Linked DNA regions of Homo sapiens. The protein of the gene in region 6 purifies or fractionates together with the protein of the main gene of each other region. This does not show direct contact. Each region holds a gene or a part of one and is shown on either strand. Other genes may lie near its edges.

Region 1 (3,843 bases), on a different chromosome or scaffold from region 6:
AAGCTGGTTCCCCTCCTGGCTCCTCCACTGACCAGCTCCAGGATCTTGGACTACATAACTCTCTGGGCCTTGGTTTCCTCATCCCTGAAGCAGATGTAATAATGCCCAGCTCGCCTGATCATTCAGGAAGGTTCCAGTAGGGCCCAATGTCAACACCCCAGGAGGTATTCTGGTGAAGCTCCTGAAATAGCAAGGAAGCCTGGAGAATCTTAGGAAGAGATGTCCCCTGGCTGCAAGGGGGAGCCTACCTGGGGAGGTTGCAGCATTGTGTAAACTCCTTACCCAAGAACAGCACGTGGACTCAACACTCCCAAAAGTGCTCAGAGTGAAACCCACACCGGGCCGCAGTCTGGGTTATCCTTCCAAACCAGTTTCTTTTCTTTTCTTGAGACAAAGTCTCTCTGCATCACCCAGGCTGGAGTGCAGTGGCACGATCTTGGCTCACTGCAACTTCTGCCTCCCAGGTTCAAGCAATTCTCCTGCCTCAACCTCCGGAGTAGCTGGGATTACAGGCACACACCACCATGCCCAACTAATTTTTGTATTTTTAGTAGAGATGGGGTTTCACCATGTTGGCCAGGCTGATGTCGAACTCCTGACCTTAAGTGATCCACCCATCTCGGCCTCCCAGAGTGCTGGGATTACAGGCGTGAGCCACCGCACCTGGTCTGTTTTTTGTTTTATGAGATGGGGTCTCACTTTGTCACCCAGGCTGGAGTGCAGTGGTGTGCAATGGTATAATCTCAGCTCACTGCAACCTCCACCTCCCAGGCTTGAGTGATCCTCCCACCTCAGCCTCCCGAGTAGTTGGGACCACAGGTACAACACTGAGCCCAGCTAATTTTTTTGGTAGAGATGGGGTTTTGCCATGTTGCCCAGGCTGGTCTCAAACTCCTGAGCTCAAGCGATCCTCCCGCATTGGCCTCCCAAAGTGCTAGGATTACAGGCATGAGCTACTGCACTTGGCCATATTATTATTATTTTGAGACGGGGTCTTGCTTTGTTGCCCAGGCTGGAGGGCCAGTGGCATGATCAAGGCTCACTGTAGCCTCAACCTCCTGGTCTCAAACAATCCCCCTGTCTTCACCTCCCAAGAAGCTGGGTCCTTAGGTTTTGAAGTCATAGCATCTGCCACATCAGCGGTGTTGGGGTCCAGGAGAAGCCCAGTTAGACTGGGCGGTGGGTGGTGCCTGGTGCAGAGTCAGCACTGCTCGGTGATGGACCAGGCAGATGAGTGAATAACTGATGAAAGAATGAGGGCAACAGTCCCTAGTGGGCAGAGCCAGGGCTTTGGCTGGAGCGACAGGGCCAGGGGACCTGATGGTCTTGTGAGCAGGACAGTGACATGAAGATGACTGTAGGTAACTGTGCCTGGCGCTCACTGCTGAGCTCAGGACACAGGCTCTTGTGTCATCCTCCCATCAATCATTCTTTTTTATTTATTTTATTTTTTTGAGATGGAGTCTTGCTCTTGTCTGCCAGGCTGGAGTGCAGCGGTGTGATCTCAGCTTGCTGCAACCCCCACCTCCTGGGGTTCAAGCAATTCTCCTGCCTCAGCCTCCTGGGTAGCTGGGATTGCAGGTGCGCGCTGCTACGGCCGGCTAATTTTTGTATTTTTAGTAGAGACAGGGTTTCGCCATGTTGGCCAGGCTGGTCTCGATCTCCTGACCTCAAGCAACCCACCCGCCTTGGCCTCCCAAAGTGCTAGGATTACAGGTGTGAGCCACTGCGCCCGGCCCCTCCTATCAGTCATTTTGTAGATGAGGAGACTGAGGGTCAGACAGTTTGCTCTGCCCCAGGTCATCCACAGAGGAACGAGTAGCGCCAGGACTGAACGCAGTTCTCTGGCCTGAGCCCAAGCATGTACCCACCACACTCTACTGCCTCCATGGGCGCAGAGTTAGGGTATCCTGGTAGAAGAGTCGGGCGGAACCCACCTGCCCAGAGATCCCTGACCCCGCCCCTCTTTAGGGCACAGCCCAGCGCCTGCAGAGCCTGGGAACGGAGAAGGAGACAGCCCAGAAGGAGTGCGAGGCGTTTCTGTCCACGCGGCCCGTGGGCCCCGCTGCCCTGCAGCTGCCCGTAGCCCTCAACAGCGTGAAGAACAAGTTCAGTGACGTGCAGGTTCTGTGCAGCCTCTACGGGGAGAAGTGAGTGCTCTGGGGACAGGGCAGCCACGCAGGGCAGCAGCGTGTGGCCCAGGGAGTGTCTGAGCCTTGCCTCCTCTGCGGCAGAGCCAAGGCTGCCCTGGATCTGGAGCGGCAGATCCAGGATGCGGACAGGGTCATCCGAGGCTTCGAGGCCACCCTGGTGCAGGAGGCCCCCATCCCTGCTGAACCGGGGGCTCTGCAGGAGAGGGTCAGCGAGCTGCAGGTAAGGGACCAGCCGGGGCCTCCTGGTGTCAGGGGAACCCAGCATTCAGGGGCGGGTGGGTGGACACGGCGTCTCCCCAGCCACGAGGGTGCACGGCTGCGTCCCCTCCTCCTGCAGCGCCAGCGGAGGGAGCTGCTGGAACAGCAGACCTGCGTGCTGCGGCTACACCGCGCGCTGAAGGCCTCGGAGCACGCATGCGCTGCCCTGCAGAACAACTTCCAGGAGTTCTGCCAAGACCTGCCTCGCCAGCAGCGCCAGGTGCGAGCCCTCACCGACCGCTACCACGCCGTAGGGGACCAGCTGGACCTGCGGTGAGCGACTGGGTCCTCGGGGCACAGGGTGTGGGCTGGTGCAGAGCCAGGCATTGCTGTCTACAAGCTGTGTGATCCTGGGCTAGTGACTTCACGTCTCTGAAGCTGTTTCCTCATCTCTAAAATGGGATAACAACAGCACTTACCTCCCAGGGTGGTGCCTGGTAGAGACTGTCCCATCTCTGAATTCCCAGGGTCAGGGAGTGGGGATCTGCACAGCAGGCCACTCGGGCCTCCTGACCTGCCCCCAGGAGGAGGCTCCCATCAGCCTCCCTGTGCACCTGCCCCTGTCCCCACGGGGCAGGTCTTATCTCTGTTCTGGGCCTCGTCCTCCTGCAGGGAGAAGGTGGTGCAGGATGCCGCCCTCACCTACCAGCAGTTCAAGAACTGCAAGGATAACCTGAGCTCCTGGCTGGAGCACCTGCCCCGCAGCCAGGTGCGGCCCAGCGACGGCCCCAGCCAGATCGCCTACAAGCTGCAGGCGCAGAAGGTGAGGCTGGGGCAGGGACAGCTGCCTGTGCCCATGTGGCCCCCTAGTGGCCAAAGCTCAGAAGCGCTCTAAGGGGCTTCAAAGCCCAGGCCACGGAGGCCCTGGGCCCCTTCCCTGGCCTCCAGCTGAAATGCTCCTCTTTGCCCACAGACGGGGCCAGCCCATCTCTGTCTGGCCCGACTGGGGCAGTGGGATTTACAAGCTCAGGCCACAGAGCCCTGAGGGTTCCGGCCACTTTCTCATGCTCATCAAGCCCCTGCCATGTACCAGGCAATGTGTTCACTGGGGTACAACCCTGCACCCTGGCAGCTCCCAGCCTGGTGGGGGAGGTCTGTGATGCCGACAAGCATTGGTGGGAGAAGCTGGAGTGCTGTGGGTGCCCCCAGGCTGGACACACTTGCGGGTCAGGATCGGTAGTGTGGGAGGAAGCAAGTGTAGCCGGGGGAGGGATGAAATGTCCCATGCAGAAGGCATGGCAGTCAGGGGAAAGGAGGGGGACTCAGGGGCGAGGGCGACCAGATGGGCAGACCACACAGGCCCTTCCGGCACAGGACCCAGGCTGCACTCTCTCCTGCAGCCCCCAGAAGCTGCTGGGGAGGGGATGCTTCCAGGCCAGTGTTTAGAAGCTGGCTCTGGCTGCCATGTAGAGAATGACTAAGAGGGTGGGAA
Region 2 (3,243 bases), on a different chromosome or scaffold from region 6:
TCCGCCTCCTGGGTTCAAGCAATTCTCCTGCCTTAGCCTCCTGAGTAGCTGGGATTACAGGTGCCTGCCACCACGCCCGGCTAGCTACAACAGTTTTAATTCCTTGTTAAACTGAATTTAATTTTCTCAGACTGGGAGAATGGTGCCATCTTGTGGACATGAGAGAGCAGCGCCGCACGTCCCACACCCCATGCAAAGGAAAATATAAACACGTCTCTTCTCGTTGGTGCACTTACTAGCAGACCATGATTTCCATTAGCTACAACTACTGAACCATTTGTTATCTATTAAAATTGCCCTAAGAATTATTAGATCATGCATCTGTCTTCTAGCTCATCTTCTTGTGTTTGGGAAATGAGTTCTTTTGGTAGACATTCATGTATTATTCCAGACCACATACCTTGTAACAACAGTGGAAGCTGATTCATGTTCACTTTAAAAAACATGAAGTCTGCACAATTTAAACACTCTCCAAAGGCAAGAGAATGAATCAAATTATTTCTCAAGAACTTTCTAGTTTTCATGATTCTAGTTGAATTTATATGAAAGTATTTTAAGATACTTTACTTTTAAAATACAAAAGATACTCTTAAAATACAAAAAGTATTTTAACATACTATAATGAAGAATGAAAAGAGACATTGTGACTTTAATACTTCCTGAAATTTCAGTGGAGTATGCTGTGTGTCTCTGTCTCGGCAGAGTGTAGGGTTTGCTGGTAGTTTTTTCCCTACTGCTACAAACTTACACATAAAGGCCCAAAACACCTTACCCTTGTATTCTATAGTACATCTAGCCATACATCTAGCTGTGTAGAGGCTGTAGATTACCAATGATGATAAATCAGTGTCTCACAAGAGAAGAGACGATTTCCTTCCTCAACTATAATACCTAGATTTATTGTGTAAATTCCCAAACCTTTTTCATATTTTGTAAATGCTTCAAAGGTGAAAAGAATGTTTATTTCTTCTTGATCCAAGGAGGAAGCATGCTTTCAATACCAGTCACTCCCTGCATCAAAATGCACAGATTTTTACTTTGATGGGGTCTTTGTTGATACATCCTTGGTGCTGAGGTTTATGCTAAAAAAAGGATAAGCCATCTGAAGGGATCTTTATTCTACACTGGAAAAAAAAAAATCAGATAACCCTTTTGTTAATGATACTTCTCCAAAGAAAGAAGCCATGAGGCTGTTTTTAGCACTAAAGTATCTGAAACATCCAGTAAGCACCTTTGGAAAATCTTACAAACATTCTGGTAACAGGGAGAGAGTTCATGATAATAGTTTTACAATACTGTGGTACTCAGCATCCTAAATGCTATGAAATTTTATCCACCAACTGAGTCCCCAGTAGTGACAATGCTACCGCGTCCCCTTATGTACTTCCGGGTGTCATCCAAACCTCCCCTTTGACCTAATACAGCCCGTTTTCATTGTTCATGCAAGTGCTGTTCCTCGATAACCATTCCTCCCACCTTTCCACCACTGCCAGGACTACCTGCTCTTTCCTCGCTGGTGTCTCGAATCTACCATCTCACCACCAAATATATGTTAGTCTCTTTACTCCTTTTCCCTTCTCTCGGGTTTTCCCAGTTCCCTTGAATTTCAGACATTGTAAGAGTGACTGTGGACTAGCTCTTAAGAACTGGGTAGAAAAAGGAGCCCGTGAGGTGGGATGTCCTGTGTGAAGGTGCTGGTGCCCCAATGGTGGGATCTGGACAGATTCACCCATGGCAGGTTGACCCTCTCATCCCACAGGGGCCCAGGCTTCCCTCCCTGCCTTGCCTCCTTGAGGCATGCAGTTCTACACCTTGTTTACTTGCTTACTTTTGCTGTACTGGTGTTAGGGGAATTGTGTCTGCTATAGACCCTTCACCATGGGTACATTCATCTTTTATTATTTTCCTTTCTTTTAGGGGGCACACAGTATGATCAAAATCACATTATCCTCAACACTGTCAGCAAAGAGAAGTTTACACAAGTGTGGGAAGCCATGGTCCTATATACCTGAACAAAGAAGGAAGAAGAATCTTCTGGAGGTCCTTCCAGCCACCTTATTTCTTAAAAAGGACAATGCTGATGGAAGACCAGACTGGAAAGTGGATCGACTCCTCCTTCATTGATTCTAAATTCAACCTTAAATCATGCTGCCATGACTCAGAGAACTTACTCATCGTTTCAAAAGACTATCATAGCTTTAAACCAATAATTTGTCCTCCTTTCATTTCTTGCCTTTCATTTTTGGTAGCTGCTTAAACAGGTTGCCTAATTAGCAGCTTTTGGGTGATTTTGTAAAATGTTATATCAAGATTTCAAGACTGTGTACATTTTAAATTATTTCCAAAGATAGTGACAGGAGAGAACTGGAACAAATTTACCAACTTTGTGGACCTACAAAGCCCTTACACTTTAAAGGGTAAGACAAAGGCTTAAGTTTGAAAGGTAGAGAACTGTTTAGCATCTGAGAAGAAATACTTTATTAGGCCTGTAATTTTGGTTCTTGGCCTTAAACACTTTCTGGAACCTTTAAATATGCTGCATAGCACAATGGGAAAGCCTTAGGTATTCACACATTTAAGGAACTCTAAACAAAATACTATTTTCCTTTAGTTCATATTAAAAATTAATACATTTTAAAAATTTAATGTCAAAGTCTGGTAACATTTGTTAGTAGGATTTGAGTTATTATTTTTTGAGACAGGATCTCAGGCTGGAGTGCAGTGGCACAATCACGGCTCACTGCAGCCTCTACCTCCCCAGGCTCAGGTGATCCTCCCACCTCAGCCTCCCAAGTAGCTGGGACTATAGGCACACATCACCAAGCCCAGCCAAATTTTGTTTTTTTTTTGTAGAGATGGGGTTTCATCACGTTGCCCAGGCTGATCTCGAACCTCTGGGCTCAAGCAATTCACTCGCCTCGGCCTCCCAAAATGCTGGGATTACAGGCCTGAGCCACTGCGCCCAGCCAGGATTTGAATTATTTTAACTCATCCATGGGCTGCCCTAGAATGTCACAAATGAGGGTTGTTTAATGCCTTTCTTATAGCTGCTACTGGAACACTATTATGACCTAATTTATGAGCCATCCTTACTCATCTACAAGTGCTGAAGCAATGTTACATACTTTTTTGCTAAACTCAGATTTTTTAGCCTAATTTCTTGTCCTCCTATCCACCTGCATCCACACATGGCCTGCATGGGGCTGCCTTCCCTGCAGTGTTCTGCAGCCATGCTTCAGGGTA
Region 3 (4,369 bases), on a different chromosome or scaffold from region 6:
GTGTGAGCCCCTTGCAAAGTTTGCTTGCCCTAGGCTTGTCCTTCTCTCTACCCCTGAGTCCCTATGTTTGGACTCCTCTCTACACAGCAACAGGCTGGGGGATTCTCTTTAACCCACCAGCAACTGTTCAACCTGGCGCATGGGCAGGAAAACTCGAGATTAAAGTCTGAGAACCTGGAAGGGATTGTCAGATCCAACCCCATCATTTCAGATGAGAAAGCTGAAGACCAGCGAGAGGAAGAAACTTCTCCTGTTAAAGCACACTGGATGAAGACGTGCTCCACTCCCAACCTCCAGAAAAAAATCACTGATAGAGTGGCCTCCACTGTTCACCAATTTTGCCTTTTTATATGATAGTTTTCTTTCCTGAGAGGGTTGAGAATCCCCATGCAGTGCTCTTTCTGGCAAGGGCATCATACTTGGCAGATTTTACCTTTATTATCGGGGAAAACTGGACAGTCACGGGGAGCTGCTCCCCTTCTTTTGGACTTGGAAACAAAAGAACCTCACTGGGGAGGAGTTCCTGAGGAGAGGAGTGTAAGTTGGGGTGAAGGGAGTGAAACCCTGGGCTCCCAGGGGAAGAAGAGTGGGCCTTCGGCTGCCTTTAAGAGGCCTCTTGCCCCTCCCCTGCCTCATAAGGAATCTGAAACGTTTAAACCCCAGAGGCTGACTCAGTAAGAGTCATTTGCATAATATTTTAGAGTGATTTAGCCATGCGCTCGACATGTGGCTGATTTAGCTATGCTGGGCTTGGTGGTCATAAGAATAGCACTGGTTCTGACCGACACATCCTCTATCTCTCTGTCCAATGACCCCAACCCTTGCTTGGGCACTTACTGTTTGTCAAATTTGGACCAATCACCTTACTGTGTGCCAGTGTCATGCTAAGCTCCAGGAATTTGAAGATGAATCCAACCTGTGGCCCCTTGGAAAGTCAGGTCTGAGACTTGGAAGTAGGTGTCTGTTTGGTGGGGATCACCCAAAGATCAGCCCATGGGTGTCCCTAATTTGGACAAAGAACCCTCCAAACTGGACCCATCTTGGTGTGCCTGCCTGCATGACCTATTTTTTAAGCTGCAAACAGCTAGCATTACCTGTTCTCAACATCTGGCATTACCTACCTTCTTAGTCACCTTCCCTCAGGCTTCAAACAGCTGTAGGGCCCCACCTCCTATCCATCTAGGGTCCCTCCCTCCCCTTTTTCTTCCTGAAAGGATCTGGAGACACCAGCTCCACAAGTCCTGGTGTCTTTAAAAGGATCAGCTTGAGGAATAAGGCTCGTCTGAGAGCTGTGACATTCATCTGACTCTAGTGAAAGTCCAACAGCCACTCCCTTTTTGGCCTCCAACTGGGCACCATGAGGGCCTGCATCTCCCTGGTATTGGCCGTGCTGTGTGGCCTGGCCTGGGCTGGTAAGTCACTATCTGGCGGGCATGGGATTGCTGGTGGGGCGGGATCTTGCCTAAAGAAGCAGAGAGTTGGAGAACTTGGTAGAGGGCAGGGCCGTGGGACAAGGGAGGGTGAGCTCTGTCCTAAAGCCGCAGAGCACTTTTGGGTTGTCCTTGTCTGAGGGTGCAGGCGTTGGTCCCGGAATGGACTGGACTATGTGGAGAGAGTTGCAGGGCTGATGGTCTGATTTCATGGAATTCCCTTCTTGACACCTTGGAGGATCAGCCCCAAATATCCCTTAGTCCAGCCTGACTTTTGATCTCCCCAAGATTTTGTTGTCTGGGGCCACTGTAAGGAATAAAGCTAGGGCTGGTGTCCATGGGGTCTGAGTGGCCTGGCTGCCCTTGGTCACTCCTTCCACTGCCTGGTGACAGGTGAGGTTGTTTAGGGTGTGATGTTACTTTGGGTAGAGCCTTAGGAGGTGGGCAGGCTTAGGAGGAAACTGAAAGGACCTTTGACCAGGAGGTGGGCCTCGTCCTATCTGGGGCTGTACAGGGGTCAGAGGAATGGATCTCTGTTGCAGTGTTAGGAGAATTGAAGAATACAGAAGGGACCTGGCCCACAGTTATGAGAGGTCCAGGGGATGGGACTGGCAGAGGAACAGGACCATGTTCCTGTTTAGTAACTGTGCAAAATGCTGGTGCTGATGGGTTAATTGGTAGCTAGTGGGTGGGTGGGAAGGAGTGCCAAGGGAGGGGCTGAGCTGAGGAGTGTGGGGAGAATCCTCCTCTGCCCACAGGAGAAAGAATCCTTCCACTGGGTTGCTCCTGTGTAGGACTGTGGAAAGGATTAAATGAAATAATGTATGAGAAGCACCTGGTGCAAAGTGAGATCTCAGTGAACTGGAAATTCGCTATGATTATGACTATAAATTTTCTTGGGAGAAACTTCCGCTTGGGGTCATTTCCAACTGGGTTGTGGAAAGGAGACCCTTATGGGATTTCTAAGTGGAAAACCCCTGGAAGAGGAAGTTGTGCCTCCCAACCATGGATGAGATAGTGCATCTTACCAGAAACCAGCTCTGCCTGGGCCCTAGTGGGTGGAGAGGCAGTGGGAGAGCATGAGGGTGGGCCTGGGAGCCACCAGCCTCAGCCCTGTTGGTTGGGAGGAAGGTGGAACTTGGGGGCTTAATGTGTAGGGGTGGCCAGCGGGCTTGGCATATTCCAGCCTTAGGGAAGGAGAGCAACTCTGGATATTTGGTCCCTGGGGGGCAGAGGTAGCAGTGGCTTTAGAAGTGCAGGTGGAGCTCTTGCTGCTAGGTCGGAGGGCAGTATCTGCTTTGGCTGTGGGATCGATGGGGAAGTGAGGTCAAGTGTATGAGGCTTCCTAAGGTGGCAGGGAAGAGGCTCTGCACTTGTTGATACTATCCCAACATCTCAGAACTGAGAGGCAAGAATATGAATCACATGGGGAATCACTGACAGCCTCAGGTCCTCCTTTATGAGCTGGATGTCTGTGGAGAACCTTGGTTGATTTTTTTGGTTGTGAATGGAGGCAGGAAGCTAGTCCAAGGGGTGAGGCTTCTTGGTTGACTAGGTCTCCATGGAAACAGCATCTGGGGCCTTCTAACGGTACAGATGTGTAGGATGTCCCAGTCATCAGAGGGGCTGAGCACCAGTGTACAGGGACACTGTGTCCACCCAGGCTTGGGACCAAGCTTCCTTGATGGCCAGTATGGATAGGGAGTGGCTGTTCTGGCATATTGAAGTCTTAGAAAGTGCAGAGAAATTGAGCATTTCTTGGGGGAATGGAGGGAGAATCTGAACCCGAGAGAGGAAAGGCTCAGATGAAGAAAGGCAGAGAGTCAGAGAGGTGAGGCAGAGGAACAAGAGGCACAGGTTACTACAGCAGTGATTCAGGCACCTGGCTTGGGGAGCAAGGCTTACTCAGAGTGTTGGTGTTAATGGTGCAGTGTGGGGATGCTGGAGTGAGTTGTTAGGGTGACTAGTTACTCATCAGAGTGTCCCCAGAATGTCACAGCAAAGTGCCTATGAGGAAAAGTTCCTCCCACCCCTGCACTCCACTGTCAAATCCCAAGGTCACCTTGAAGCAGACTAAGTGCACAGAGAAATGTGAGAAAGTGCTGGCATGGGGCTCTTGCTGGAGACAAAGTTCTTGAGCAGAGATGAAAAAGCCCACTCAGCTTGGGCCGGCGGGGGTGCTCTCCTGCACGTCCAGCTGACTGCTCGCTTGCAACCCTTCTCAACTGGTGCCAGCTGCTGGAATGAAGTGAATTCTTTCCCTGGACTCTGCTGATTTGGCCCATTAAAAACATTGCCCTGATTTGCCTGAATTCTCTCCCTTTGGATTCTGGGTGTACTGCCAGGCTGACTGAGCAGGGAGCTGATGGGCTGAAAATTTCTCCTTAAGGTCTTTGCATTCAGGCTCCAAGGGAGCATCATTTAACATTCAAGAGGAGTTCCTGCCGGCTTGAAGGAACAAGTGGCCTTGGGCCTGGTCTCTTTTAGGGACTGGAAACCTGCCTTCCTGCCCACCTTGGAGGCCTGACAATGTGAAGTTGTCTGAGGACCCGGGTTAACCTTGACCCAATGCCTCTCTGATGTAAAGAATACAGACCTGTAGTGATGAAGTCAGCCAGGAAACCAGCAACACAGATGTGCTGACAACCCAGCCCAAGGGATGGCCCTGTTGAAACCCTGGGAGAGTGTCAGCTAGATTAAGTGTGTCGACGGGGCCACAACACAGGGAAGACTGCTCCAGCCAGTCTGAACACTTGTCACTTGGAAGATGGGCATGAAATATTGCCACCGTTTATTCACCTAACAAATACTTCTATGGTACTACTATGTGTCACTTGCTGTCCTAAGTGCTTTACATATATTAACTCATTTAATTCTTACAAATATTCTATGAGATAGGCTCCATTATCATCCCACTTTTACAGATACGAAAACCAACG
Region 4 (3,843 bases), on a different chromosome or scaffold from region 6:
ATAGAACCTTCGCTTGTTTCTCAAAATGTGATGTTCTGGTAGTTCATTTGTCATCCTGATAAGATTGAAGTTAAGAAATAGACTCATTTTTGCTTTGTTGTAACTTTCCTCTTATAATCTTTTTTTTTTTCCCTAATTGAATGGTAGCTAATAAACAATCTGTATTGTTTGGCCTGTATTTCTTTTTCATCAGTCTGTCTTCCCTAATATGACAGGGCAGTTAGGAATTTTTTCTTTTTCTTTTTTCTTTTTGTAGACATAGGATCTTGCTCTGTTGCCCAGGATGCTCTTGAACTCCTGGCCTCACTCGATGCTCCTGCCTCGGCCACCCAAAGTGTTGGGATTACAGGCATGAGCCACCATGCTTGGCCAGATTTTTTCTTTGATTGCTTTTCTAGAATCTGTTTTCACTTTTGTGTTTGTTTCTATTTTCCTTCTATATGTGCAGGATATATTCAGAAAAAGTAGAAATTTTATGGCCTGGCACAGTGGCTCATGCCTGTAATCTCAATACTTTAGGAGGCCAAGGTGGACAGATCACTTGAGGTCAGGAGTTCAAGACCAGCCTGGCCAACATGGCAAAACCCCATCTCTACTAAAAATACAAAAATTAGCTGAGTGTGGTGGTGTGTGCCAGTAATTCCCGCTATTCAGGAGTCTGAGCTACAAGAATCACTTGAACCTGGGAGGCAGAAGTTACGTTGAGCCAAGATCGCGCCACTGTACTTCGACCTGGGCAACAACACGAGACTCAGTCTCAAAAAAAAAAAAAAGAAAGAAAGAAATTGGCAAGGTGCGGTGGCTCATGCCTGTAATCCCGGCACTTTGGGAGGCTGAGGCAGGCAGATCACGAGGTCAGGAGTTCAAGACCAGCCTGGCCAACATGGTGAAACCCTGTCTCTACTAAAAATAGAAAAAATAGCTGGGTGTGGTGGCGGGCGCCTGTAACCCCAGCTACTCGGGAGGCTGAGGCAGGAGAATGGCGTGAACCTGGGAAGCAGAGGTTGCAGTAAGCCGAGATTGCGCCATTGTACTCCAGCCTGGGTGACAGGGTGAGACTCCATCTCAAAAAAAAAAAAAAAAAAAGACATTTTGTAAGAACTTTTGATCCTTAAAAGTACATAGGCTGATGCAGTGGCTCATGCCTATAATTCCAGCATTTTGGGAGGCCAAGGTGAGCAGATCTCTTAAGCCCAGGAGTTTGAGAGCCACCTGGGCAACAAGCCAAAACCCCATTTTTACAGAAAATACAAAAATTAGCCAATCATGGTGGCATCCACCTGTAGTCCCAGCTACTGGGGAGTTTGAGGTGGGAGGATTACTTGAGCCTGGAGATCAAGGCTGAGTGAGCCAAGATCATGCTGCATACCACTGCACTCCAGTCTGGGCGACAGGGTAGGTAAGGCTATCAGAGTGAGACTCTGTCTCAAAAAAAAAAAAAAAAAAAAAAACTGTTGAGGCTAGGTGTGATGGCTCATTGTAATCCCAGCACTTTGGGGGACCCAAGGCAGGAAGATCACATGAGTCCAGGAGTTCGAGACCAGCCTGGGCAATATAGCAAGACCTGGTCTCTACATATAAAAGAAAAAAAGAGAGAGGGAAATACATTGGTCTTACATTAATAACTTTGAGACACCTATGCTTTTTTACATTGTTACTGAGGTATAACTATCTACAGTAAAGTATGCTAATCTTGAGTGTACAGCTTGATGAATGTTAACAATAGTTACACCTATGTAACTACTATCCAGATCAAAATGTAAAATATTTCCAACATCCCAGAAGGCTCCTTTGCACACCTTCCCAGTCAGCCTTGATCCATTGCCTGTTTCTGAGATGCATAAGGTGAAGTAATATTGTATGTAGTGTTTTGTGTCTGGCTGCTTTGTTCAACATATTGTCTGTTACCTTCACTGAAGTTGTTACATGTGATTGCTTACTTTTTAAAAAGTTTAAATGTTTGCATTTCAGTTGGTTTTTGGAATCTTCTCTCAAAAAAGAAGGTAATCCTCACCCTCACACAAGTGCAGGCTGTTTATCTTCAACAGTTGAAAATCACTGTAGAGGAAGTATTTATATATCTTAGTCTACGTTGTATCTTGTGATTATGTCTAATGTCTAATTATATTCATTAATAAGACCATTTCCCCCTTCTTTTTTATTATACAAGTTGAGATTGGGAGTGTGTTGAGAGCCACATACCACTTTTGATACGTGGTAGCCAAGTTTTTACCTAATGTTAAATAATCTTATTCCTTGTCTTTATTAGTTATGCAGAAGGGGTTAAAAGATAACTTTGCTGATGTCCAGGTCTCTGTAGTTGATTGCCCTGATTTGACTAAGGAACCCTTTACCTTTCCTGTAAAAGGTAAGCAATTTTTGCAATTAGCTTTTGTTTTTTAGTCATAATCTTTTTCTGAAACTAGAATTATTTTTAAGGACATCTTAAATTATCTACAAATAAAGGATATTGTCACAACATTTAGGCTAAATTGTGCCAAATTTCTGTGCTCACTCTTCTGATATTGGTTAAATTTCATTTCATACTCTTGTGGAAAAGGATTGTGTTTTATTCACTTATGTAACCTTCACAGATTGTAGAATAGATATCCAATAGGTTAGAATTCTTTGTATCACACGAGAGTTTTGCTTTTAATTGCTCAGACTGTTATGGAAACTGATTTTAATTTTTATGATTTTATTTATTCAAGACCAGAAGGGATCCTAAAAGCCTTGTATTTGAATGATCTGTTAAAACTAATCCTTCAACAAATTTGCCAAGTGAGCATCCACTGTTTGAAGTGAGAAGGAAGGGAAATTAGTATTAGAAGAATAAAATAATTTGTCAGTATGATAGATAGTTAGTTGATGTTTCAGTTTTTACAATAACACCACAAGGTAAGTAGTAGCCCTTGTTTATAGATGAGAAAACTGAAAACGAGAGAGGCTAGATAAGCTCAGTGTAAATCATAACCAGGATTCAAATGCAAGTCTGTTTCCAAAGTCTAACCCCCTCCTGTTATACCCTATTATGATGAGGAATTTGAGGATAAACACTCAAAGTGTTCTTTTTATTATGTAATTAACATCTTTGCTAAAAAGGAGTTTGCCATAGAAATTCTGGACTCTAGTTCTGTCTTAGAACAAACCTGACTTTGAGATAACATTAGCATGAGGGGATTTGAATTGAATGTTTTTTGGGGGCCTTTACAGCTTAAACAATCTTTGATTTTAAGTAGAGCTGTAAATTCTAGAAGGCTTGTGTACCATGTGGCAATTTCTTTTAGCTTCTTCAAAGGATTTAGCATAGTACTTTTTTATAGTTTTTTTTTTTTTTTTTTTTTTTTGAGACAGAGTCTCACTCTGTCACCAGGCTGGAGTTCAGTGGCGCAATCTCAGCTCACTGCAACCTCTGCCTCCCAGGTTCAAGCGATTCTCCAGCCTCAGCCTCCTGAGTAGCTGAGACTACAGGCATGTGCCACCACGCCTGGCTAATTTTTTGTATTTTTAGTAGAGACAGGGTTTCACCGTGTTAGCCAGGATGGTCTCGATCTCCTGACCTCGTGATCCGCCCACCTCGGCCTTCCAAAGTGCTGAGATTACAGGCGTGAGCCACCACGCCCAGCCTTGATTTTTTTAAAAATATGAGTGTAATGTATTTCCCCTGCTAATTAAGTAATTAACTAAAATTAAATAAAGGTCAGGAGACAGAAGAGTACAAGAAAGAAGGAAAAATGGTTAATCTTTTTTTTTTTTTTTTTTTTTTTGTGTGTGTGTGTGTGAGATGGAATCTCGCTCTGTCGCCCAGACTGGAGTGTGGAGTACAGTGGCACAATCTTGGCT
Region 5 (4,144 bases), on a different chromosome or scaffold from region 6:
ATGGCACAATCTTGGCTCACTGCAATCTCCGCCTCCCGAGTTCAAGCAATTCTCCTGCCTCAGCCTCCTGAGTAGCTGGGATTACAGGCGCGTGACACCATGCCTAGCTAATTTTTGTATATTTTTAGTAGAGACAGGGTTTCACCATGTTGGTAAGGCTGGTCTTGAACTCCTGACCTCGTGATCCGCTGGCCTCGGCCTCCTAAAGTGCTGGGATTACAGGTGGGAGCCACCGCACCAGGCCTCTTTTTTTTTTTGAGACGGAGTCTTGCTCTGTCGCCCAGGCTGGAGTGCAGTGGCGCGATCTCGGCTCACTGCAAGCTCTGCCTCCTGGGTTCACGCCATTCTCCTGCCTCAGTCTCCCGAGTAGCTGGGACTACAGGCACCTGCCACTACGCCTGGCTAATTTTTTGTATTTTTAGTAGAGACACAGTTTCACCGTTTCTACCATAGAGCCAGAGAGGGCCCCCTCCTGTTTTTTTATCTCTTACCAAGACCTCCTGGGGCTCCTCATTCCTTCAGGATGGTCTCGATCTCCTGACCTTGTGATCCGCCCGCCTCGGCCTCCCAAAGTGCTGGAATTACAGGTATGAGCCACCGCACCCGGCCTTTTTTTTTTTTTTTTGAGAAGCAGTCTCTGTTGCCCAGACTGGAGTGCAGTGGCACGATCTCAGCCCACTGGAACCTCTGCCTCCCGGCTTCAAGCAATTCTCCTACCTTGGCCGCCCAAGTAGCTGGGATTGCAGGCGCCCACCACCATGCCCAGCTAATTTTTTTTTTTTTTTTTTTTAGACGGAGTTTCGCTCTTGTTACCCAGGCTGGAGTGCAAGGGCGCGATCTCGACTCACCACAACCTCCGCCTCCTGGGTTCAAGCGATTCTCCTGTCTCAGCCTCCCAAGTAGCTGGGTTTACAGCCATGTGCCACCACGCCCAGCTAATTTTGTATTTTTTTAGTAGAAACGGGGTTTCTCCATGTTGGTCAGGCTGGTCTCAAACTCCCGACCTCAGGTGATCCGCCCACCTCAGCCTCCCAAAGTGCTGGGATTACAGGCGTGAGCCACCGCGCCTGGCCTCAAGTGGGTTTCTGAGGGGCTATTTCTTGCTCATTAGTTGGGGGACCGGCCCTCACCACAGATTCCAGAAGCCCAGCAATGCACACTCAGCCCTCAGTGGGCTGTCTCTGAAGGTCCTGTCCCTTTTTCGCTTCCCCCCCGCTGGAGCTGCTTCTCCCGCTTGCGGGAGCCCAGGCTGAGAGCAGACACCCAACCTGTCGAACCTGTCTGACGTCATCATCTCTCCACCCACCTGGGCCCCAGGTCTCCAGCCACCCCGCTCTTCCTGTTCTCAGCTTCCGTCCTCTCTGCTTCCTTACAGCACCCCCACCTGCCAGAGCTGATCCTCCCTAGGCCCTGCCTAACCTTGAGTTGGCCCCCAATCCCTCTGGCTGCAGAAGTCCCCTTACCCCCAATGAGAGGAGGGGCAGGACCAGATCTTTTGAGAGCTGAGGGTTGAGGGCATTGAGCCAACACACAGATTTGTCGCCTCTGTCCCCGAAGACACCTGCACCCTCCATGCGGAGCCAAGATGGGGAATGGAACTGAGGAAGATTATAACTTTGTCTTCAAGGGTGAGTTGGGTTCCCTGAAGCAAGAGGAAGCCTGAGAGACCCAGAAAGAGATTGAATAGAGCCAGAGAGGGCCCCCTCCTGTTTTTTTATCTCTTACCAAGACCTCCTGGGGCTCCTCATTCCTTCAGAAAGAAAGCTGCAGGGAGTGGGGGAGGGTCTGGTTGCAGGGGCAAAAGTCAGGGAGCTTCTGAGTATGCTCTACTGTGGTAAATAATGATGTTGATTCCTCCTTAAGAGTGCTGAGTTAGGCTCCTCTGCCCCGTTCCTAATAGAAACCCAAATCCCTGGTGTCAGCCAGTGCAGCACAAGAGATGGAGGTCAGACTTCAGAAAGGACTTCCCTCTTTTATTTTTTTTTCTGAGACGGAGTCTTGCTCTGTCGCCCAGGCTGGAGTGCAGTGGTACAATCTCAGCTCACTGCAACCTCCACCTCCTGGGTTCAAGCGATTCTTCTGCCTCGGCCTCCCAAGTAGCTGGGACTACAAGCACCTGCCACCACGCCCGGCTTATTTTTGTATTTTTAATAGAGACGGGGTTTCACCATATTGGCCAGGATGGTCTGGAACTGACCTCATGATCCGCCTACCTCGGCCTCCCAAAGTGCTGGGATTACAGGCATGAGCCACCACACCCGGCCAGGACTTCTCTCTTGAGAAGAAAGGGAAACCAGCAAACAAGAGGAAGAAAGTCATCTTTTCTGGGCAGGTGTACAGGGAACGAGAGAAAGGAGAGACACATCCCATTATAGGGTGGGGCAATAAATACATAGGGAAGACAGAAAATATCATGAATTTGCTGCAGAGTCTGATAGAATCCAGAGGACTCCTAGGGTTGTAGCCTCGTCTGCCTGGCCCTTGGCTGACTCACTGGACCTGCATACCAGGCACTGGGCTCAACTTTGCTGTCCCTGGAAGCATGCATGTATCTTTCTAGCCCCTGTGTTTGGTGCCTTTGCTGTTTTCCAACCCCACCTTCATACTTCCTTTAGGGCAGGGTGGACTCTCCAGCCACCCTACCCCAATGCCTCTCCCAACCTCAGCCCGGCCCCTCCCTTGAGCTGGGACTCTCACTCCAGAACCCGCCCTTGAGCTGGGGAACCTGTACTACTGGCATCTTTTCCAGGAAGGAAAGGGTTAGCAATAGTCTGGGGCAATAATATGAGGAACTACCATTTATTGAGCACTTACTATGTACCTGCCACTACCTCATTAATACCATAACAATCCCCGAAAGTCATATTTTATTTTGAGGGGCAGTGTAACATTGTGGTCAGGAGCCAGACTGGGTTCAGATCTCAGCCCTGCCACTTACAAGTATTGCGGGTTGGTCAGCCGGGTGCAGTGGCTCACGCCTGTAATCCTAGCACTTTGGGAGGCCGAGGCGGCGGGATCACTTAAGGTCTGGAGTTCCAGACCAGCCTGGCCAACATGGGGAAACCCTGTCTCTACTAAAAATTCAAAAATTATCTGGGTGTGGTGGCACGTGCCTGTAATCCCAGCTACTCGGGAGGCTGAGACAGGAGAATCACTTGAACCCAGGAAGCAGAGGTTGCAGTAAGCCGAGACTGTGCCACTGCACTCCAGCCTGGGCAACAGAGCAAGACTCTGTCTAAAAAAAAAAAAAAAAAAAAAAAAGTATTGAGGGTTGGGTTGGGGTCCCTAGAAGCAGACGCTGAGAAGAAGTTGGGGTGTTCAATGTTTGTTTGTTTTTTGAGACGGAGTCTCGCTCTGTTGCCCAGGCTGGAGTGCAGTGGAGCGATCTTGGCTCACTGCAATCTCCGCCTTCCTACAACCTCCGCCTCCTGGGTTCAAGCGATTCTCCTGCCTCAGCCTCCTGAGTAGCTGGGACTACAGGTGTGCACCACCACACCCAGCTAATTTTTGTATTTTTAGTAGAGACAGGGTTTCATCATGTTGGCTAGGATGGTCTCGATCTCTTGACCTTGTGATCCGCCCTCCTAGGCCTCCCAAAGTGCTGGTATTACAGGCGTGAGCCACCGCGCCCAGCTCAATGTTTTTTTACAAATCAGCACCTGTGAAAGGAAGGGAGAGGAAACATAATTGGGCAGAGGGAGAAGTCAAACAGCAACACAGGCTGGACAAACCTGGGTCAAGGGCGGGGAGCTCTGTGATTGCCTCACCTTGCTTGAGCACTGGGTGTAGGCTGCCCAGAAAAGGCATGACTTCCAGTGAGGCCGCTGTCTGCACCAGAGGCAGACGCTGAAGGAGCTGACAGCTGGAGCCTGTCTGCAGCCTGCACTCCCTGCAGCTTGGGGCAAGTCCTTCCTTGAAGGCTGATCTGGCCAGCACATCTCTGTGTTTACAACACTAGCCCTGTTATCTTGGGCAAGTCATTTGACCTCCAAAGCGCCTTGTCTGTAAAAACAGGTAAAATAGTAATGGGATTCATGGCATTCTTATGAGGATTAAATGAGGTAATATGTGTAAAGCTTTTAACGACACTGCCTGGCACATAGTAAGCATTCAGTACACTGTAAACATGAACCATTAGTATCTC
Region 6 (3,843 bases):
TATTTGTAAAACAGGGGCTGATATCTACCTCACACGTGCATAACACAACACCTGGAAGACAGGAGGGGGCACTCGATGAATGGTAGTTTTCCCCAATTTCCCCCCCCACCCAGTCTTCCTCTCCATGAAGTTGGAAAACCCAAGAAGGTATTCCCAGCAAAATAGAATATCGAACGTCTAGGCAGTTTAACAGTTTGGGAGCTCTTGGTTTTTATCTGTAATTTACATACACTTTATCTTATTTTAGAACAGTAATTTTTATATAGTAGCTAAATCTGCAATCTTTATTTAGTAAGTCCTGATGAAACATATTGCCCTATTAATATCTATAGCAGCACCTCGGTGAAGCCTGAGTTGAAATGTGAGTGTATTCTAGCCAGTATACCCAAGACTAGCACTAGACTCACTAGTAAATGCAGTCCTTTCCTTCTGCCCCCTAAGTCTCTCTCTCTGGTATGTTAATCCACCCATCCAGACATCCACATGCCATAATAGGCAGGTTATGATCCCATTGTCAGCTGTCGTTTAAATTAGAGTTTTTAAACCTGTGTGTTTTCGGGTACCATCTTTCCTGTCTGGATTGGTATTTACGTCACTGTCCATGCTTCAGGACAGGTAATGTGAAGACAATGGCTGACCGGATTCTGACCATGAGATCTGAACTCAGGGCACGACTAGAAGCCCTCAAAACCCCTGGGACCTGGAACCACATCACTGATCAAATTGGCATGTTCAGCTTCACTGGGTTGAACCGTAAGTGGCCCCCACCACCTCCAGCCCATGCGTGCATGTAGACACACAACATTCCTTTCAGTCGCTCGCCTTGAGCTGAGCTCACTTTCACAGCCTTTGCCTAATTGGGCAGCCATTGCTTTGGACCAGGACAAGTTAGGTTTTCTTAGGGTGTCCCACCATCTCATAAACTCTCTGGGTCTCAGAAGAGTATTGTGGTCTGCCCTGCTGACCCACAGCCAAGATATTTCCGTGTTTGTGGGCTGGGAAGTGGCTCAGAGCCAGCTGGGAGGTAACAGGATTGGTAGCTGGGAGCCTTAATTTATGAAAGGTTCTTATAAATGCTCAGGTACATTTTGGGTTTGCCTTAATCCTGAATATAATGATTATTCAGGGAACTGATTTCTTGACAGGTCTTTCTTATTTCTAGGTATTATCCTCAAAAAGAGATTACAAAGTTATCTCTGCATTTCATAAACAAGAACCTAGATTGGGCTGGGCACAGTGGCTCACACCTGTAATCCCAACACTTTGGGAGGCTGAGGTGGGCAGATCACGAGATCAGGAGATCAAGACCATCCTGGCTAACATGGTGAAACCCCGTGTCTATTAAAAATACAAAAAAATTAGCCGGGCGTGGTGGCAGGCGCCTGTAGTCCCAGCTACTAGGGAGACTGAGGCAGGAGAATCACTTGAATCCAGGAGGCAGAGCTTGCAGTGAGTCGAGACCGCACCACTGCACTCCAGCCTGGGCGACAGAGCGAGACTCCGTCTCAAAAAAAAAAGAAAAGAACCTAGATTGGTGGTTGGAATTAAAAGCTGATTGAAAATCTAGTAGGTGGTCATGCATGGTCTTGGTCAATTGTCAGTAGGGCACATCTGCCATCTGCAGTCCCATCTGATGACAGAAGAGTCATTTCTTCTTTTTTTTTTTGAGATGGAGTCTTGCTCTGTTGCCCAGGCTGGAGTGCAGTGGTGTGATCTCGACTCACTGCAACCTCCGCCTCCCGGCTTCAGGTTATTCTCCTGCCTCAGCCTCCCGAGTAGCTGAGATTACAGGCGTCATTTCTTTAGTAATTCCCACAGTGCAGATGTGGCGACTCACCTGTGTGTCCCAGTGACTCTAGGGAGGGATGTGTGGCTGGCTTGGTTTGTAGGCAGAACGGCAGAGGCCGTGGGGAGGTATTTAACTGGGGCCATCACAGTGCCAGTGTGAAGTGGGCTCAGAAAAATCCAAAGGAAATAAATATAAATGGCAGTTAATAGAGCTTGTATTGTGGACCCCTCAAAATACTTTGGGGTAAAATGAAGCTACCTAAGAAAGTAAAGAAATAGCTCAGTTAGCTGTAGATGTCCTCTTGACTGAGGAACAGAGAATTAGTTCACTCACAATTATAAAAATATTACATGTAACAGAAATATTAATAGTCTTTAGTAGTAATAGTCTAAAAGCTCACAATATGGGAATGTCTCCCTGTAAAATATCCATATCTTCCCATTATCCACAGGAGGAAATTAGTTTTATTAATATCACGAATTGGAAAAATGATGAGAATAGAACTGTGCTTATAACACAAAAGTTATATTTTTAGCGCTTGGCATCATTTGCCCTTATTAAAAACAGGGGTTTTGTTTTCCTCCCAACTTTTTTTTTCTTTTTGAGACAGAGTCTTGCTCTGTTGCTCAGGCTGGAGTGCAGTGGCACAATCTTGGCTCACTGCAACCTCCACCTCCTGGATTCAAGCGATTCTCCTGCCTCAGCCTCTCAAGTAGCTGGGACTACAGGCATGAGCCACCACACCCAGCTAATTTTTGTATTTTTAGTAGAGACAGGGTTTCACCATGTTGACCAGGCTGGTCTCAAACTCCTGACCTTAAGTGATCTACCTGCCTTGGCCTCCCACAGTGCTGGGATTACAGGCGTGAGCCACTGTGCCTGGCCTTTTTTGTTTGTTTGTTTGTTTCAGACACGGTCTCGCTCTGTCACCCAGGGTGGAGTACAGCGGTGCAATCTCGGGCCACTGCAACTTCTGCCCCCTGGGCTCAGGTGATCATTCCACCTCAGTGTCCAAGTGGCTGGGACCACAGGCGTGAACCACCATGCCCGGCTAATTTTTTGTAGAAACGGGGTCTCACCATATTGCTCAGGCTGGTCTCAAACTCCTGAGCTCAAGTGATCTGCCCGCCTCGGTCTCCCAAGGTGCTGGGATTACAGGCATGAGCCACTGCACCTGGCCAGAAAAGTTTTAAACATACAGAAAAGTTGGAGGAATTGTACAGTGAACCCCTATATATCCGCCACCTAGTTTCTACAATTCTCACATTACAATACTTCCTTTGTTATCTTTTTTCTGTCAGAATGGGGCTTTTAACCTGGAATCCCTGGATGTACGTTTAGGAGAACTGTGAAGCCCCTGAAATGATGTTTAAAAAATTGTATATGTGTATTTTGGCCCTGCTCTAGGGAAAGAGTCCATAACTTTTACTAGCTTTTCAAACTGTGACACTTCCCTTCTCTGAAAAAGTAGAAAGGCCTCATTTTTACTAAAACAAAACCAAAAGCCAGGGTAGGAGTCATTTAATCACTGCCTCAGGGCACAGGCTTTTAGAAAGAGTGGCACACCCAGGGCTGTGTTGGCTTGAGGCTCTATCCCCTTGGGTGACCAATTCACACAGGTAAACCTCTTCTTAAGCTTGCTTTCTTTGTTCACTGGTTTGGAGGGGTCAAGGGAAAACTTACCCTTTGCCCTCTGAAAGTTTGCTGGAAATCAGCTGACAAGAGGCAGATTAATAGGAGAAAAGGCATACAAATTTATTTATTTATTTTTGAGTCAGAGTCTCACTCTGTTGCCCAGGCTGGAGTGCGGCGTCACAATCATGGCTTACTGTAGCCTCAACCTCCCAGGCCCAAGCAATCCACCCACCTCAGCCTTCGTAGTACCTGGGACCACAGGTGTGTGCCACCATGCCCGGCTAATTTTTAAGATTTTTTTGTAGAGACAGGGTCTCCTTATGATGCCCAGGCTGGTCGTCAACTCCTGGGCTCAAGCAATCCTCCCTCCTCAGCCTCCCAAAGTACTTGGATTACAGGCATGAGCCACTGTGCCTGGC
Region 7 (4,398 bases), on a different chromosome or scaffold from region 6:
TTACAGGTGTAAGCCACCGCGCCCAGCCAATGAGGGATACATTTCTAATCATTGCTTCTTTTACTTCAAACCATGGTAAAAGGACCTAACAAATGATGCCTTTCTAGAAGAGTGAAGGCCTACTGGCAATGTTTTCTTTAACCCATGATGTGGGTTAGAGGAGTGAACCAATGTTTTGTTTTTGACTGATTATGAAGCAATGCATGTACCATTAAAGTTTCTTACCTACTTCGGGCCTTCATCTTTTATCTATCAAAGTCTAAGTTTATCCATGTATAAGGCTGGCTGCAAACTCCTTCACAAATAAAAGTATACCCCATAAGTGCACATAACAGACCCCTTTTCCACTTCTATTGTTTGTAGAGGCATAAGGAAGACAAAAAATATTGAAAGATAAGAGTTTCATGGTAGTAGAAGTCTTAATCTGTGAACTTGGGAAAAGCTGTTCACATCAAGGATGCCATTTTCTTCTTGGGAGAAATTTCCCAGGGTAGCTTTACCTCAAAAGTTCCAATGGGTGCACTGTTCCAAAAGTGTGGAGGGACCGTTCTCATTTGCGAGACCATGAACCCAAAGCCCAAGGTCCTGAAGTTTTGTTGTAGTGTGGATGACAAGGACAGTCTTCTCCAATGTTTCCAGAAAATTCAAACCATAAAAAGCTTTCTTTACCGGGGGAAAATACACTGTAGCATAATAATCTACTGTTATAACATCAGCCCTCTTGCATGGGAAAGCTTTTATACAACCAGAATGACAAATTGGAATTCAAATAACAATTGAATGAAATCCCCTTACAAAATGTTTAAATGGCCCACCCGGTGACCAAATGTACATGAAGCTTTGTTTGTCTTCCCAGGAATATGGGACTAAGCATTGGTTATAAACTATTTTAAACAATTTCAGTATCAGCTGGTTTAATATGAAAATCTGACGAAGTATTTTCTTGGTATTTAATTAAATTTTTGCTTGTTTTACTTGGGTTAGTAGCTTTATGCAAGGAAATTTCATTCAAAGCAATGAAAAACAACAACCAGGGCTGATACTGACTACTAAAAACTGTTTTAAACTCAGAAGGAAAAATAATATGGATTTCAGGCGTTCCCAGGTTATAAATGGGTTTTCTGCATGTTTGAAACCAAAAACAAACTTTCCTATAGAAATATCAGTAAATCTAGCAAAGAAATAACACACCCCAACCGTGTCATAGCCTGTCTTAAATAAGGGAAAAACATGAGAGCACTAGTAAGAGGCAAGTAAAGGGTGCTTTGCTTTACAATTGATGGAAGCTCGCAGGCTTTGTTCTTGGCTGCCCCACGCAGCCAGCGGAAGGCAGGCCAAGGAGGAAAGAGCCCGGCCTCCCAGGTCCCCGCAACTACAACTCCCAGGATGCCGCGGCGCAGGCTCCCTGCGGGAGCAGGCTGGGCTCAGCTCCGCTGGACCCGCGCTGGGGAACTCTGGCCTCGCTGCACTCATGGCTTCTCCTAGCAAGGCAGTGATTGTTCCCGGGAACGGAGGCGGGGATGTGACCACCCACGGCTGGTATGGCTGGGTGAAAAAGGAGCTGGAGAAGGTAAGCGCCCAACGCCGCTGCTCCGTGAAGTCAGCCTGGAGGGAGGGACGGCGGGAGAGGACTGAGGGCTGAAGTTTGAATAGGCGTCTAATCCCCTCTAGCAAAGCCCTGTGTGTTTTCCTGCCTCTCCCCCGCTGCCTTCTCTTAAAGTCTGAGCTAGTGGTCGAATTTTGACTGGTAAAACTGCCTGGAAGACTTCTCTGAGGGCTCAGCCTTTAGAGTTAAAGGAACCCCTTTGAACTACCGAGGCTGAGCCCCTGAGCCCCGCCCCCCGTATCTGCTGCTGGTTCAGATTTGGGACTTCCCAGATAATTTTACATGTTCACTGCTTCCCGCTTCAGCTTTTAAAAAATTAAATATGCTATACTTAATATATACAAAGGATATACGTAACATGCGTCTACATTATGAGGCATAATGTAATGAATTACCAAACTAAAACCTGGGACATTGCCTATACATCATCTTCCAAACGACCCTTATGTCTACCCATCTCAGTCCCGTGCCATCCTGAATTTTTTCATCTGCTTCTCTTTTTAAAATTGAAGTACTTTTCAACCTATGAATATACCTTTTAAACAACAGACTGTTCTATTTGGCTTCTTGGTGAGCTTTATAAAAGTGGCATCTTACTGTAGGCTGACCTGTGCCGTTTGATTTTTATTTTTTAACCCTCTTCTGTAACCAGGCGGTAAGTCGGCTCCCTGGGTTGCTGTCCTCTAGAGCGGGTCTCCAGAATAGATTGCAGCGCTGTGGCTGAAAACCCTGGTCAGAGTTACAACCCCAAAGGTCAGGGCTGGAGCTTCTGAGAGTATGCTGTCTCCAAATTTCTGTATCACGTTCCTGTGCCACGTTTTACCTACTCCCTGGAACACAGTCTATTTGGCTCCAGGTCAGTCTGTCTAGAACACATTTGTTCATGCCTCTCTATAGATGCAGGCCTGTAGAGGCAAATATGGGTGTACAAATGCAGATATAGGTCTCTCTATAGAGATCAGCAGAGCTGCCTAGATACAGAACTACAGATGGAGTTCATGCGAAAAGATGGTCACTTAACCTACTTCATTTCATAACACAAGTTAATACTGAATTGGTAACGATCATATCAGGTGCCTCATTTCTTATTAGCAAAGTATTAGTTGTAATTAAGCTCTTTATTATAGCTTTTTCTCCCCCCTCATATCATAGATACCTGGTTTCCAGTGTTTGGCTAAAAACATGCCCGACCCAAGTAAGTTTTAAACTTGTTTTTAAATAGCCTCATCTTGTTGGGTTTTGATATTACCATTTTTGTGGTAGAGAACAAGAATATCATAGTGGAGGAACCAAAGATGCCTATATACCTAAGAAAGAATAAGGCAAGCAGCTTGGGGAGGAGGGTGTGAACCAAAAGCCATAGAAAATTCTTTTTTTTTTTTTTTTTTCAATTCTGTGAATTTGTCATTTTTATTTATTTATTTATTTATTTATTTATTTATTTATTTATTGATCATTCTTGGGTGTTTCTCGCAGAGGGGGATTTGGCAGGGTCACAGGACAATAGTGGAGGGAAGGTCAGCAGATAAACAAGTGAACAACGGTCTCTGGTTTTCCTAGGCAGAGGACCCTGCGGCCTTCCGCAGTGTTTGCGTCCCTGGGTACTTGAGATTAGGGAGTGGTGATGACTCTTAACGAGCATGCTGCCTTCAAGCATCTGTTTAACAAAGCACATCTTGCACCGCCCTTAATCCATTTAACCCTGAGTGGACACAGCACATGTTTCAGAGAGCACAGGGTTGGGGGTAAGGTCACAGATCAACAGGATCCCAAGGCAGAAGAATTTTTCTTAGTACAGAACAAAATGAAAAGTCTCCCATGTCTACCTCTTTCTACACAGACACGGCAACCATCCGATTTCTCAATCTTTTCCCCACCTTTCCCCCCTTTCTATTCCACAAAACTGCCATTGTCATCATGGCCCGTTCTCAATGAGCTGTTGGGTACACCTCCCAGACGGGGTGGTGGCCGGACAGAGGGGCTCCTCACTTCCCAGTAGGGGCGGCCGGGCAGAGGCGCCCCTCACCTCCCGGATGGGGTAAGCCATAGAAAATTCTAGTAAGGATTAGGAAAGCACCTGGGCATGGTAAAATTTAATTTTCAACTTTGCACCAACTTGATTTTTCCCTTCTATATGTCTACAAATATTTTCAGGCAGAATTTGTGGGTACTATACTTGAGGCATAGGTATAAAACTTTACAGCATCTATTTGAGGTCCTAATGTTTAAAAATGTCATATTGCTACTTTTGTTCTGGGTATGCCTATGACTTGTCTCAGGAATCCCCTTTTTGGAAAGAATGAATAAATGTGAATTTTAGAATGTTGCAAGAGTTTTTTTGCTTTTTTTTTTGAGATGGAGTCTCGCTCTGTTGCCCAGGCCAGAGTGCTGTGGCGTGATGTTGGCTCACTGCAACCTCTGCCTCCTGGGTTCAAGTGATTCTCCTGTGTCAGCCTCCCAAGTAGCTGGGATTACAGGCATGCGCCATCACGCCTGGCTAATTTTTTTTGTATTTTTAGCAGAGACGGGGTTTCAGCATTTGGGCAGGCTGGTCTCGAACTCCTGACCTCAAATGATCTGTCCACCTCAGCCTCCCAAAGTGTTGGGATTATAGGTGTGAACCACTGCACCTGACCATTAGCTTTTTTTTTCAAGTTTGAAAGTTTACATTAAAATTTCAGAGTTATATTTTATTATTTCCTTAGTATTTTCTTACAAGAACATGGTAAACCAAAAAAAAAAAAAAAAAAGAGAAAAGAAAAACTAGTTACCAAAACTGTGGACTTGGATCT

What was found.
Region 1: the proteins of GOT1 (region 6) and EVPL purify together in Homo sapiens (affinity purification with mass spectrometry; one large-scale study listed by BioGRID and IntAct). This does not show direct contact.
Region 2: the proteins of GOT1 (region 6) and CRYBG1 purify together in Homo sapiens (affinity purification with mass spectrometry; one large-scale study listed by BioGRID and IntAct). This does not show direct contact.
Region 3: the proteins of GOT1 (region 6) and ENDOU purify together in Homo sapiens (affinity purification with mass spectrometry; one large-scale study listed by BioGRID and IntAct). This does not show direct contact.
Region 4: the proteins of GOT1 (region 6) and C11orf54 fractionate together in Homo sapiens (co-fractionation; one large-scale study listed by BioGRID). This does not show direct contact.
Region 5: the proteins of GOT1 (region 6) and RAB25 purify together in Homo sapiens (affinity purification with mass spectrometry; one large-scale study listed by BioGRID and IntAct). This does not show direct contact.
Region 7: the proteins of GOT1 (region 6) and RBBP9 purify together in Homo sapiens (affinity purification with mass spectrometry; one large-scale study listed by BioGRID and IntAct). This does not show direct contact.

Annotation. Positions count from the first base shown.
Region 1 is NC_000017.11:76,013,757-76,017,599, reverse strand, and holds part of EVPL (envoplakin), read left to right. Parts: intron 1-1,971; coding exon 1,972-2,150; intron 2,151-2,234; coding exon 2,235-2,373; intron 2,374-2,490; coding exon 2,491-2,684; intron 2,685-3,023; coding exon 3,024-3,174; intron 3,175-3,843. UniProt on the Homo sapiens protein: Component of the cornified envelope of keratinocytes. May link the cornified envelope to desmosomes and intermediate filaments.
Region 2 is NC_000006.12:106,566,555-106,569,797, forward strand, and holds part of CRYBG1 (beta/gamma crystallin domain-containing protein 1), read left to right. Parts: intron 1-1,917; coding exon 1,918-2,012; 3' UTR 2,013-3,243. UniProt on the Homo sapiens protein: May function as suppressor of malignant melanoma. It may exert its effects through interactions with the cytoskeleton.
Region 3 is NC_000012.12:47,722,402-47,726,770, reverse strand, and holds the start of ENDOU (uridylate-specific endoribonuclease isoform 1 precursor), read left to right. Parts: upstream 1-1,280; 5' UTR 1,281-1,357; coding exon 1,358-1,412; intron 1,413-4,369. UniProt on the Homo sapiens protein: Endoribonuclease that cleaves single-stranded RNAs at 5' of uridylates and releases a product with a 2',3'-cyclic phosphate at the 3'-end. The UU and GU sites are more efficiently cleaved than CU and AU sites. Targets mRNAs to regulate their expression.
Region 4 is NC_000011.10:93,748,077-93,751,919, forward strand, and holds part of C11orf54 (ester hydrolase C11orf54), read left to right. Parts: intron 1-2,269; coding exon 2,270-2,368; intron 2,369-3,843. UniProt on the Homo sapiens protein: Exhibits ester hydrolase activity on the substrate p-nitrophenyl acetate, in vitro. Regulates DNA damage and repair by regulating HIF1A degradation via chaperone-mediated autophagy (CMA).
Region 5 is NC_000001.11:156,059,816-156,063,959, forward strand, and holds the start of RAB25 (ras-related protein Rab-25 precursor), read left to right. Parts: upstream 1-1,344; 5' UTR 1,345-1,585; coding exon 1,586-1,628; intron 1,629-4,144. UniProt on the Homo sapiens protein: The small GTPases Rab are key regulators of intracellular membrane trafficking, from the formation of transport vesicles to their fusion with membranes.
Region 6 is NC_000010.11:99,399,490-99,403,332, reverse strand, and holds part of GOT1 (aspartate aminotransferase, cytoplasmic), read left to right. Parts: intron 1-610; coding exon 611-753; intron 754-3,843. UniProt on the Homo sapiens protein: Biosynthesis of L-glutamate from L-aspartate or L-cysteine. Important regulator of levels of glutamate, the major excitatory neurotransmitter of the vertebrate central nervous system. Acts as a scavenger of glutamate in brain neuroprotection.
Region 7 is NC_000020.11:18,494,241-18,498,638, reverse strand, and holds the start of RBBP9 (serine hydrolase RBBP9), read left to right. Parts: upstream 1-1,413; 5' UTR 1,414-1,471; coding exon 1,472-1,570; intron 1,571-2,758; coding exon 2,759-2,801; intron 2,802-4,398.